Regions from separate parts of the Homo sapiens genome. Here region 1 is linked to region 2. A link means that fine-mapping ties the variant in region 2 to the expression of a gene that starts in the linked region. Tissue or cell type: lung. Region 2 holds a variant in brackets; the other region holds the start of a gene. All regions are shown on one strand. Distances are from middle to middle.

Region 1 (6,249 bases), 28 kb before region 2:
ATGCCAAAAGTTAGACCTCTAATGCGGAAGCTTGACAGGGTGAGAAAAGAATTCAGCATCTGTCCGACTACACAGTATGTTATCTACTCAAAAGTCCAGCCCTGGAAAGCTGTCCTTCCACCTCAGGAGGAAATACAGCTGCTTGCTGGGTTGTTCACTTCAGCATCTTCAATAAGATGAGCTCTGTATCAAAGAATCCTGAAAAGTTTGAAGAGAGAGGAGAATATATAGAGTAGTAGGAGTGAGCATAGTCCCTGTGAGAAATGACTAGACATGACTAGAGATTCTCTGAAGTTCAGCCCAAGGAAGAGATCAGCCTTTTGCATTGCAAACTTTCCCCCCACACTAGTAAAGGTGAAAGGCCTACGTATCCCAATGACTAAAAGGCCAAATTAGAGCTAGCTTTTTGGCTTATGACTTAATTGTTGTTGGTTTTAGTTGTAGTTTATAAAGAATTTTTCATGGACCTTCTTTTCTCTTAATGCTACCAGTAGGCCTTATCAGTCCTTTATACCAACTGTTCCCAACCTTTTAGCACCAGGGACCACCTGTACCAGTCCGTGGCCCATGTGTTGGGGACCCGTAATTTATACCATGGTGTTAGATTAGTTTGAGATGCTCCCCATAAGAGCAGTTTTTGAAAGGAGGGAAAAAAAATAGAACCAGACTCCCAAGGTTGGCGGAAAAAAAACAATCTCACATATTTGAAAGACTGAGTCCTTTATATCCTCTGCCATCTTTTCGATGTTCCCCTTCCCTTTGCCTTATCAATGTACAAAGCTTTTTACTAGAAAATACAAGGCAAAATGCACATTCTCTAATAAAGCAGAAAATTACTTTGGATAAACTTTCAGCAAAACCATGTAGATTTCTTGGTTTAAAAAAATTGTGTTTGTGCAGGAACTTTTTGTTTATACATCCCCACAAGCTCCAACAAAACTGAAGATGATAATCAAGGTTGCAGATTTTATTAGGGTTCACTTTAGAAAATAAATGTATAGTATAAATGGAAATTAAATATTTCAGGAAATGACTGGCTTTATCCAGAACATACAAGTTTTAATTTTTCAACAGACAATATCAAGATGTTCTTTATTTAGCCCCTACCTTGCATAGTGGGGAAGACACAAGGCCAGTTGAACAGTGAACTGCTGAAAGCAAATTTCACTTTCAACACAGAAAGCACGGGATTATGAAACAGGTTCTTCTTAAGAAATACAGAGGGTTTTAAACTTTTTGGTTGCAAAAAAAAAAAAAAAAAGATGTGTAGTTCATTTCCTCCTCTGTTTTCTGCAGAGCACTAAGAATTGTAACTGAATTTGCTTCACTTTTCTGACTCACTCGTCACTGTGAGGCTGTAATCACTCTGTATTGACAACTGCTTCTTTGGGGCCAGATTGTCAAGTAACATGACAGAGGGGTCTCAGTCTCACTAAGAAAGATTTTCCAGTAAGCAGTGACCGGGAATCATAAGAATCACTGACTTTCATCTTCTCTCTTTTATTTCTTTTATTTTAGTTAGAAATAACTACTTACATAATGTCTTACTACATAATGTCTTGCTACATTATGACAGTGAGTGTGGTCAGAGCAGCCAGGAATGAATGCCAAGGGAAGATGAGGAGTGCAAGAAATTGTCCGTAACTCCCTGAAAATACTGTAACGAATCTGGTCTAATGTGTTTCTCAGAGACCAGAAAACTTATGACTCTCTCTTCACATTCCACTAGTTCAATTTTTTGAGTTCACATTTGTTTCTCATTCTTGGCTTAGCTGATGCATTCCAAGCTTATTCTTCTAAATTATTATGTATTTGCCCCAAGCAAAGAACTTTTAATGCACAGAGTTTATGGGCTATTCTCTATAACTTTAAGGAAAATGAAATTATTTATACCTGGAGTAGGAAATCCTTAAGCAGGATAAAAAAAACCAGTTGAAATCAATAGTTGCCACATGATAATACATTTCTATTCACAAATGGCCTGGTTCCAGGTAAAACTTCAGGATACAGAGAATGCTAGAACGTGCAGCAAAATGAAAGCCCAGACCACTTAAGTAAACTTTCCAGTCTCTTGTTAATAGCTGAGTAAATCTCTGGGCAATCCTCAAGAGGTTCTTAGAAGTCGTCCCTCGTTTATATCTAGAAGGTTCTTGTAATTGTCTTGTAAATCTCCAAAGATATTTAGAGATTACTTTGCTTTAAATAGAGACCAAAAATGACACAAAACTAAAGCTGGACTATTGCCTGGTACACTATTTCTACCTAGTGCAATTTTTAATTTCTTAAAAATCAAGTGATCTGACAGCACAATACTTGTCAAGTACTTGTCATACTGAGATGTTTCTTGCCATCCATATGTATATTTTTGCCAACTATATTTATTGACTATTGATGCTTATTCCAGGTGGCTGAGTCACCCCAATGCTTGGAGGAAGCAAGCAGGGTACAAATCAATTGATCAATGAAAACACTAACGACTGACTTTTAAATCACAAAGCCATTTTAGAGTATAAGTAAATACCTGAAATAAAGAAGGCACTTCACTCACTCCTTCTCTTCCATTCCCATCAACTTTTGTGGGTAAATGCAATAGGTAATTGAAAACTTAATATCACAACCCCTAAATAGTCAAACAGCCTCTAGTAACTTGTTTCTTCCTGGAAAAGATGAATCTGATCCCAATTAACTTAAATAAAACAAACCAAACAAAACTCTCCACTACCAGCCTGGCAGCTAGGGAGGCATTATTGGGTCTGAATGTAGGAAATCAGGAAATACTTACAATCAAGATGAACGTGCCCAAGAACTCAGAGAGGGTTTCTTTCGCTAAGCTGCTCTTCAAGACCAGTCTCTGCTTGAAGCTTTTTCCCTTTTCTGCTCCCTCAGGCTGCATCTTGGGGCTTCTCTGAGGACTCCTGTTTCTACCAATACCTACCTGTTGTGGTCCTCACTTTCACAGCCAGATGAAAATGGACGTTTTGACAATGGCTCACAGATTCCTGGAGATGTCTGGTAAGAGTCTCTGACTGTACAAATGCCGTTCCAATTAGAGGCTGTGGCTTAATCGTCTTCTGGTGGAACTGTCATTCCCTGTTCGCTGCTATTTGTTTGAATCTGCGACTTAGAACCCGAAATCCCCAAAACAATCCCTTTTGTGCCTGACAGATTAATCATTACCTTTATTCTCAAGGTACTTTTTTCTCTGTTGGTTTTTTTCAAGAGATGAGAAAAGAGATGTGCCAGTTGTGTTGCCAAATCACAGTGACGGGCCCTGGTCCAGAAAAGATTTTCATGTTACACAATTGCAGGCTTCTGATTTTTTTTTCTTCTCATTCAGAAGTGGGTGGTTGGGGTGTAGTTTGGAACTGTCAAATCAGGTGTAGATATATCCAATGTTAACATTCTTTTCTGAAAAAGGTTTTTATGCAAAATGAAGAATTTGAAGAAAATATAGATTTATCATCCTAGAAGATTAATCACTCTTGTTTTCTTCTGGTATCATTTCAGTGGCTTCATGATACCACTCTGAGGTTAGTAAGAACCACATAGGCCATCCTAGAGATGGAGAAATTAACATACAGAGAAACCATTGCAAGCTTCACACTGCAAGTCTGTAGGACAGATGGAGTCACCTCTTCGGTTATGAAACTGGGCTTCACTTGCTGAAGATACTTTAGGATCCAAGAATCAGAAAGATGGAGGAGTCACCTTTTTGGTGACTTCTGAAGTTTCTTCTGAAGAAACATTCCAGTTTGGGTTTCTTCTGAAGAAGCATTCCAGTTTGAAAATAGTCACTCTTCTTCATTCACCATGAAATATTTAGACATAATACATAGGAAATAAACAATAGCAGCTTGAAATTCTTTACTGCATGGAGATGACTGAGCCGGAAAGAGATCAATTAGCGTGTATGTCATTCTAATCAAACGAGAAAGGGAGCCAGTACACCTAACCGAGGCTCCTAGGTTATACCCTTTCAATTTGATAAATTGACATCCTTGCTGGCAAGAAACTGTGTTTGGGAGTAGCTCCTTGTCCTGCCAAATATTCAAGCCTTGTTTTTCAAAACTGGCTTATCTGAAGAAATAGAATATAGCATTAGTTTCTAAATAGCAAGGCAGGCCTAGTTTCTGATTACCAATGTGGACTCATGGAATTAGTATCCATGCTGTGTGGTTCCTTCCAGTCCTCCCACAGGGAAGCCAGCTCTGCATCAGGCCCTCCCCTAGCTTTGCAAAAAGGGAGGGAGGAGAGGACATGGAGAAAGCAGCTGGTGAGAGGCCAAAGGCAGAAGGAGACTTCTCATCTGTAGGTGACATTTAGAATTTAGACTTTAAAAAGTTATAACCTGCCTGAGGCCACACTACTGCAGAACCAGGACAAAACCTCAGCACTTTGGCTTTAATTCCTGATGAAGTTATCATAAATACCATTGTCTAGAAGAGTTACCTATGACCACACCATTACCAAGTCCCAGTGGATGGACCAGAGAAACAGGACTTTCTTACTGTGACTACAGCTAATAACATGCAAGAGCGTTCTCTGGTCTTCCCATTCACTCATCTAACAACTATTTACTGCACACTCATTATGTGCCAAGCACTGCACTTAACAAGAGCACATAGGGTTCTTGTCCTTCACAGAGCCTAGAGTCTAGTGAAGCAGACAGATGTAAGTGAAATAATCCCACACACATAAATACAAAATCACAACTGAGATGTATGCTGCAAAGATGGGGGCCATATTTCCATAAGCAAATATAGCAAAAGGATTTGACTTTGTTGGAGAGATCTCTGATGGCTTCTCCAAGGAAGTCATGTGTGGACTGAGATCAGAAAGAAGCATGGGATTAACTACATGAAGTGGGGAAGAAAGTGCATGTACAAAGTCCTTGGTGGCTTTGGGGGTAAGGGGTAGGGGACAGCATGATGCCTCTCAAAGAATGAGAGAAATTTACTGTGGTTGGCCCCAGAGAGAGTGAAGGAGTACAGCATGCAAAATGAGCCCTGAGGTGTGGGCAAGGGTCAGACCTTACTAGGCCTTGTAAGTGGTAGTTAGGGCTAAAAGTGTAAGTCATTAAGGTGGTTTAAGCAGAAATACGACATGATCAGATTAGAGTTTTGAAAAGATCCTCCGAGCTGTGAGGTGGAGAGGGGATTGGAGGGGGCTTGGAATGGTCATAGGCAGATACATTTGGGGGTATTACAGAATTCCAGAATTGGGTGGTAGTTTGACAGTGGAGAAATGGAGGGATCCAAGAGTTCTTTATATCTTAAAATTGGAAGAATTTCATGGATTAGATGTGGGAGATGAGGAAAAGAGACTGAGAAAAGTTGGTTCCTGAGTTCCTAACTTGCTGGGGAAGGTGCTGCTGAGCCCTGGGAGAGGAAATCCTGGAAGAGGACCAGAAGTGCAGTGGAAGATCATTAATTCTGCTTGTGCAAAACTGAGCCTCAGAGGCTTCTGAGCGATGTAAGTTAGGAAGTGATATGGGTCCAGATGAGGAAGGAATGTCTGTGTGCTCATAGTGGTGATAACTGGAGCCTGGAGTAAAGAGGCTCCCTAGGGAGAGAGTTTGAAGAGAACTGAGAGTTTGATATGGAACATTTCATGCTTAGGTAGAGGAGGATGGAATCTTTATTATTTCTGTTTTACTACCTTCAATTGACAGTCACACTTCTCACCTCCATCACCACGAACAGCTCATCATCAAACATAGCTTACTCATACAAAATATTCACTGAACAAAATGTTCCAGCCACCTAACAAAATGTTCAAAAGCATCTTAAGAAGGTAAGCAATGAATAGTATTCCTCCTTTATTCCATCTGGGAGGGAGCCTTTGTCAAAATACCCTGACTCCAAAGTTCTAACTGGAAGCATGAGGAAGCTTTTAAATTTCATTCACTCAGAAAAAGTTTTCATTGAATATGTACCATGTGTCAGGCACAGCATTAAGCAGTGGGAATTTAAAAATGAAAAAACAAAACCAGATCTCTATTATTAAGGAATTAATAGTCTAAGTGACTAAGATGTCTGAATGAATACACCATAGAGTAGAATAGAGTTGTAAGCAAGATACTGAACCAAAATTTCTGCTGTCACCATAGGAACATCTGAGAGCTAACTCTGCATTTGCCAACATGCAGAGGAAAGAATGAGTATGGTGACTGCTGTCAATGGTTCTAAAGCTGATGAGCTTTCCTGGATGCACTGCCATACTGATTCTCCAGGGCTGGCATATGCTGTT
Region 2 (6,249 bases):
CGTTGTCCATTATCAAGTTAGACCAGATATCTGGAATTTCCTGGGACAGCCCTGGTTGTATCTTTTCACATTATGCTGTCCTGCACTTTGTTTATTTATTTTACTTCTGTTGTTTGTTGTTATTTTGGCCCCAATTCTGAGTCAATTAACTATATTTTTCCATCTTAACATCCCTCTGGCTGAAGACCAACTTACCAGTCTTCCTAGGAACTGAACTGATCCTGGGGTTGAACCTCAGGTAGCAGTCAGTTATTATATTGATTAGAGGAATTGGCGGGTACAGATTGGGGGCATCATCCTCACGCCCACCTCTGTGGCATCCATGATGATCCATTTCCAGTCCCTTCCCTGGCTCTACTCAATTCCTTGCTGGGGGAACTCTACCCCAAGCTCTGTTCTTGGCCTCTCTCTTGCTCATTCTCTCACGTTTCTTTTCAAGCCTGAGCTCTAGCCTCTGGTTTGCCTCACACAAGTGTTCTCCTTGGGGGTTCTAGGTCCTGAGATGAACTGAAGACCTCGAATGGTAGCCTCTGTATCACAGGCTGTACCCCACATTTTTCCCGGCAAACTTTCTTGTCTTCTTACCTTCTCCATCTCTTGTTGACATAACCTATTCTCTTGGTCTCCCAGGTTTGAAATCTTGGAGTCAGCTTTAATGTAGCCCTGTCCTTAGACTGCAAATTTAGCCCTCTACCATAATACCTCTTAGATTTACACTGTCTTTTCCTGTCTTACTGATACAGCCCTAAACCTTTTTATTACATGTGTTAAGTATGAAAATAACCTGTCAACTCCAGGGTTTATTAACCTGGGAACTAAACACCCTCTATAAGGTCCACAGATGAGCTTTAGTGGGACTATAAAACCCCTGAAAATATTTTTTAAATTCTTGTGTGTTTGTGTACATACACGTATTTCTTGTGTCAAATAATACTTTCCATCAGCCTCTTAAAGGGGCTTGTATCAGTTTCCTAGTACCACCGTAACAATCACTAAAAATTTAACGGCTTAAAACAACATAAGTTTTTTCTCCTACAGTTCTGGAGGACAGAAGTCTAAAATCAAAGCTTTGGGAGGGCTTCACTCCTTCTGGAGGCTTCCGTTTCTTTGCCTTTCCCAGCTTCCGGATACCACCAGCATTTGTCGGCCTGTGGTCACCTCCTTGCACTAGTCCAGCCCTCGCTTATGTCGTTACATTGCCTACTCACTCTGACCTCCTGTCTCTCTCTGATAAAGACCCTTGTGATTACATTGGCCCCACTCAGGTAATCCAGGATAGTCTCCCCATCTTGAGATCCCTAACATTTGCAAAGTCCCCTTTGCCACATACCATAACACTAATGGGTTCCAGGAATTAGAATGTGAATGTCTTTGGGAGGCCATTATTCAATCTACCTCAGCAGTCAGTGCCCCAAATATGTTGCGAGCCACTGGCTTAACTGGTTTCTTTAACAATCCAGAAAATTATTTCTCTAATGTCACTCTTATCCCGGCATTCTCCTGCTACATTTACAATGTCTTCTCTTACCTATCAGATCAATCCACTCTCTGCACCAAGCATTAAGGGCCATCAGCCAATGAGACCCACTTTATCTCTCCAATGTCATCCCCAACATCCCCCAGCTGGGACATTCTAAGTCATTCCCCTGAAAATGCATTGTCACTCTTAACTCTACACCTGTTCACACTGTTGCCCTGCCAAGAATGCTCTCTTATCTCACTCCTCTCCACCAGTGTAATTTCCTCCCTTTTATCAAAGACTTTCTTCTGCGTAATTTATCATTCATAATGTTTTCCTTTATGAAGTCTTAGAGTTGTTACTGACCGGTACTATAATCACTTATTATTTTGAATCATCCTCTTGCTGGGGATGAGTCAATATTCTGAGGAAAAAAGCTTCTTATACATTCCTTGGAACACCTAAAGGATCTTATGAATGGATAATTCCTTTTCGTCTGTTTCATCTTTTCTCAGAAAACAATTATCTACCTCAAAACACATTGTGTCCTTCATTCTGGCCCTTCTTCCACCATCTGATAATAGCTGTTCTGAAATATGGTCCACCATGTGACCTGCACAAAGAAAAAAACGTTCAATGGGACAAAAATTTTTTAAAGTATTCAACTAAAAATATTAACTTTATTTCAACTCTTGATATTTAAAAGCCTGAAAGATATTTTGCAGGTATTTTCTCTCATAAAAGACTGAAAATGGCATAACTTAGAAGGCTTTAGAAAGTGAGATTAGGACTGCGTGTGGTGGCTCACAAGTGTAATCCCAGCACTTTGGGAGTCCAAGATAGGTGGATTGCTTGAGCTCAGGAGTTCCAGACCAACCTGGGCAACATGGCGAAACCCTGTTCTCTGCCAAAAATACAAAAATTAGCCAGGCATGGTGGTATGCACCTATGGTCCCAGCTACTTGGGAGGCTGAGGTGGGAGGATTGCTGGAGCCTGGGAAGTTGAGGCTGAAGTGAGTGTGATTGTGCCACTGCACTGCAGGCTCAGCAATAAAGCGAGATCCCGTCTCAATAAGTAAGTAAGTAAGTAAATAAATAAATAAATAAATAAATAAATAAATAAAGTGAGATTATTTAGCCTATGGTACAGATGGAAAGTGCTGTTTATTAATAGTGAGCTGGAAATACACTCCATCTGTCTTTTCCGCTTCCCATCAATTGGGGATGGGCTTGGCAAACATGCCTCAACAACTTCTCATGAGTTTCTCTTTAGAATCCTGGGGAAAGTCTGTGATTAATAATAGGATCCTTCTACCCTCACCTTCTCCATTTGCTTCTCCCTTTGGCCCCAATTGCAAATTGTCTTATTGTCTCTCTTCTGAGAACCGAATTTCTTTTGTGACTCTATTTTCAATGGTTCATTCTTTTATATCTCCTTTCCTACCTGCATCTCTGGGACAAGAGAAAGAGAGCAACTTACCTGAGTCCTCACTGTTTGCTCAACTCTCATTCCTTTGAATTCCAAACTCTTTGGCCACATTGTCCTTCACCTTTTCTAATTTCTGTCATGCTGTGGTCACAGTCCTTATATGAATGTCCCAAGAGCACCTCAACTCATTCATATAGGAGGTCACCCTCCTTCCTGTAAAGCCTTTTCTTCCTCCTGTATCC[C/G]CATCTCCCTAAATGGCATCACCATGACCCAGTCATTTCATCCAGACACATCTTTAAACTCTTCTCTCTCCTGCAACCCTCGTTTGCAATCCATTAACATGTTCTCTCAATCCTCCATTATTCTTCTAGAATGTTTCTCTTCTCTTCAGCCCCACTGCCACAGATATAATCCGGGCTCTCGGACTGTCTTGCATGATTTAGTACAAAGTTTCCTAATGAATCCTCTGGACTTGTTCTGCTCCAGCCTGTCCTCCACACTGTTGGAAGACTGACTCACCAAAGTGCAGACTGGATCATAGAAGTCTTCTGTTGTCATCCTCCCTGCCCACTCCCCTCAACTCAGTTGTGAGTTTGTGTCTCAGTTGAGAGATTAGGTCAAGTAGGACAGAGTGGAGTCTATGGGTGACTTTTCTTGGGAACCTTTCCCAATCCTTTCCAAGTAGAATACACCACTTCCTCCATTGTACCTCCTCCCACACGTACACTGTATATTCTCCTACCATAGCACTCACAATACTACAACACTCTATTTGTTCACATGGCTGTCTCTGCCTACTAGAAGAAAACCTCTTGAAAGCAAGGACTACATAGAAAATAGTGTCTATGCCCTGTCCTACATCCCCATGCTGACTTCTGAGCTTTTCTGCAACTGCAGATGATAGTTACAGAGCATGCAGATGATAGTTACAGAGATAGTTACACCTTCCTAGCTTAAGTGTGGGTCCACCTGCTTTGCTGGTTGAGGGCTTTATCCAATGCCATGGGAACTTGTTCTGCACAGCTGCAGAGCAACTCAGAAGTGCCAAGAATGTATTGCTTCCAGGACAAATCTCAACCAATGAGAGATAGAAATCTGTGGGAAAATACTGCAGCTTCTTGGCCCTTGTTAAGACCATTCTGAGGCATGATTTCTTAGAGGATAACCAGAGGAACTGAGCCCCAGTTGTCCACAACAACACACTCATTAATGCATCCTTTGCTAGCTTTTATCCCTTCCCTCTCTTGATTTCCCCACTCCTCCTCCTGTGCTTCCTGGGAGCACCTCCTGAATAAACTAACTACACCCTAACACTTGTCTCAATATCTAAGTTAGTGGAGATTCCAAACTAAGACAGACAATTTCTTATTCATCTTTTGGTACATTTTAAATGCTTAATAATAGTTGATCTATAGACAAAGGAATACAGTAATGAGGGGTGTAATGATTCCAGAAGCCAGATGGCAAGTTGTCTTAGAGTCAGGGCTGATGAGCTGGGATGGAACAGTGGGAAGTCAACAGAACTTTCCAAAATTTAACAAGTAGTCAGAAAGAGGCTAGGGACAGAGACTTTACAGAAGACAGTTCGGGCAAAAATCTGAAAAATGAACCAATAGACAAATTAGTTGGATAGTTGAAGATTAGTATGAACCACAGGGTTCTATTTAGACTGGAAGGGGTGGGGATCACTGTTGGAATGATTTCTTTGAGCAACAAGGCAGAGCAGGGCACACTGTGAGACAAGGTCTCTTGTTTATAACTGATGCTACATGCATTCCACAGCTTACAACCTCAACCTTCATGAATTGCTCCACTCATCTTTCTAGGCTCATATCTCATCATTTCTCCTAAGAACCATGCTCTCAGTCCCTGTACATCTATAGTTAAACATATGGTATCTAACTATGTCCTATTATCTCAAGCTTCCACTCTCTTGCCCATGTGATTTCCTTGGCTTAGAAGAGACTTCCCCAACTCAATCAACCTAGCTAACTTACAATTGTCCTTCAAAGCTCAGCTCTAATATTATCTCTTCCAGGAAGTTTTTCGTGTTCTCTTCCCCACTATCTCACAAAACTAGGCAACGCTCTTCTTGCACACATAGTACCTGTGTACAGAGCCGAGTGCACCCTGATTGTGGTCTGCTTCTCTGTCTCCTTCACTAAACTGTTCTCTTTCTTGGGAACTTCACACAAAAATCTAACACATTTGGAATGTTTAACACAGAGGATTCTGGATAAATGGCAGTAGCAGTGGCAGGATAGCTTTTGTCTTCCTAAATCACCACATAAAAATAGAGAGTGGGCCAGGCGTGTTGGCTCATGCCTGTAATCCCAGCACTTTGGGAGGCCAAGGTGGGTGGATCACTTGAGGTCAGGAGTTCAAGACCAGCCTGACCAACATGGTGAAACCTTGTCTCTACTAAAAATACAAAAATTAGCTAGGTGGGATGGTGCATGCCTATAATCCCAGATATTTGGGAGGCTGAGGCAGGAGAATTCCTTGAACTGGGAGGCAGAGGTTGCAGTGAGTCGAGATTGTACCACTGCACTCCAGCTTGGGCAGCAGAGTGAGACTCTGTCTCAAACAAACAAACAAACAAACAAACACAGAGTGCCTAGCCAGCAAAACCAAAAACTCATGATCAACAGTTATAACAAAACTGAGTGACAACATCTCCCCCCACCCCCAAAATATAAACAGGTGGAATAAGCCACTAACTGCTACAAAGCTTGAGTCTTATGTTCTTCTGTCAGGGAGGAAGCAGAAAGAAGCAAGAAGGCATCAAAACTTGAAAAGAGAAAAACCCTGAATCAGTCAACAGATATCCAACAGAAAACATGGGAGAAGAGGGATATGAAGCCAGCAGCTAACACTGGGAAAGTTCAGATCATCTCTAATAATAGGTGAGTGCAAGGGGCAAATGGTGAGGGCCTAGGGGACAGGGGAAGTCCAGCCCCTCATAAACTCTCCAAACTGACCCATCAGGGCTCCCTTCCCATTTAAGTTCTGACTCCAGGAGAAAGTGCTAGGAGTGGAATCAAAATAGAGATGAAGGTTTGGATAAAAATGAGTGGGAGGAACAGAACCAAAATATCCCAGAATGCAAGCCTTTAAATATTTTTTAACACTACCTGAAAACAGCAAGAAGGAGCTTTGTGAAGTTTAAAGAGCTAACTGAACTTCCTTCTTCTAAATGTTCATGAAAAGAAAGTTGGCCAATCAAATCCACGTAAAAATTAATAACAGAAAACTACTGAGGTCAAATTCTATACAAAATTTGTATAAGAAAATGAGATACCCATTTATTAGAAAGGGGGAGATAGCAACTTGACAATGGAGGAAATAATGTAATTGTGGA

The links. PIP is the estimated chance that this variant, and not a neighbour inherited with it, causes the effect.
Region 1: AQP9 starts here. The variant in region 2 is fine-mapped to the expression of AQP9 in lung (TOPMed, PIP 0.97).

Annotation. Positions count from the first base shown.
Region 1 is chr15:58,135,210-58,141,458 of GRCh38, reverse strand. It overlaps AQP9 (aquaporin 9), which reads right to left and starts at 3,078. Exons shown (of 6, transcript NM_020980.5): 1 at 2,783-3,078. The coding sequence starts at 2,893.
Region 2 is chr15:58,106,864-58,113,112 of GRCh38, reverse strand. No RefSeq gene overlaps it. Among named protein-coding and RNA genes, the nearest start is that of AQP9, 28 kb to the left of the region's middle. RefSeq lists an enhancer at 1,333-2,532 and a silencer at 2,316-2,535. The variant C/G (reference allele first, on the strand shown) is at 3,131.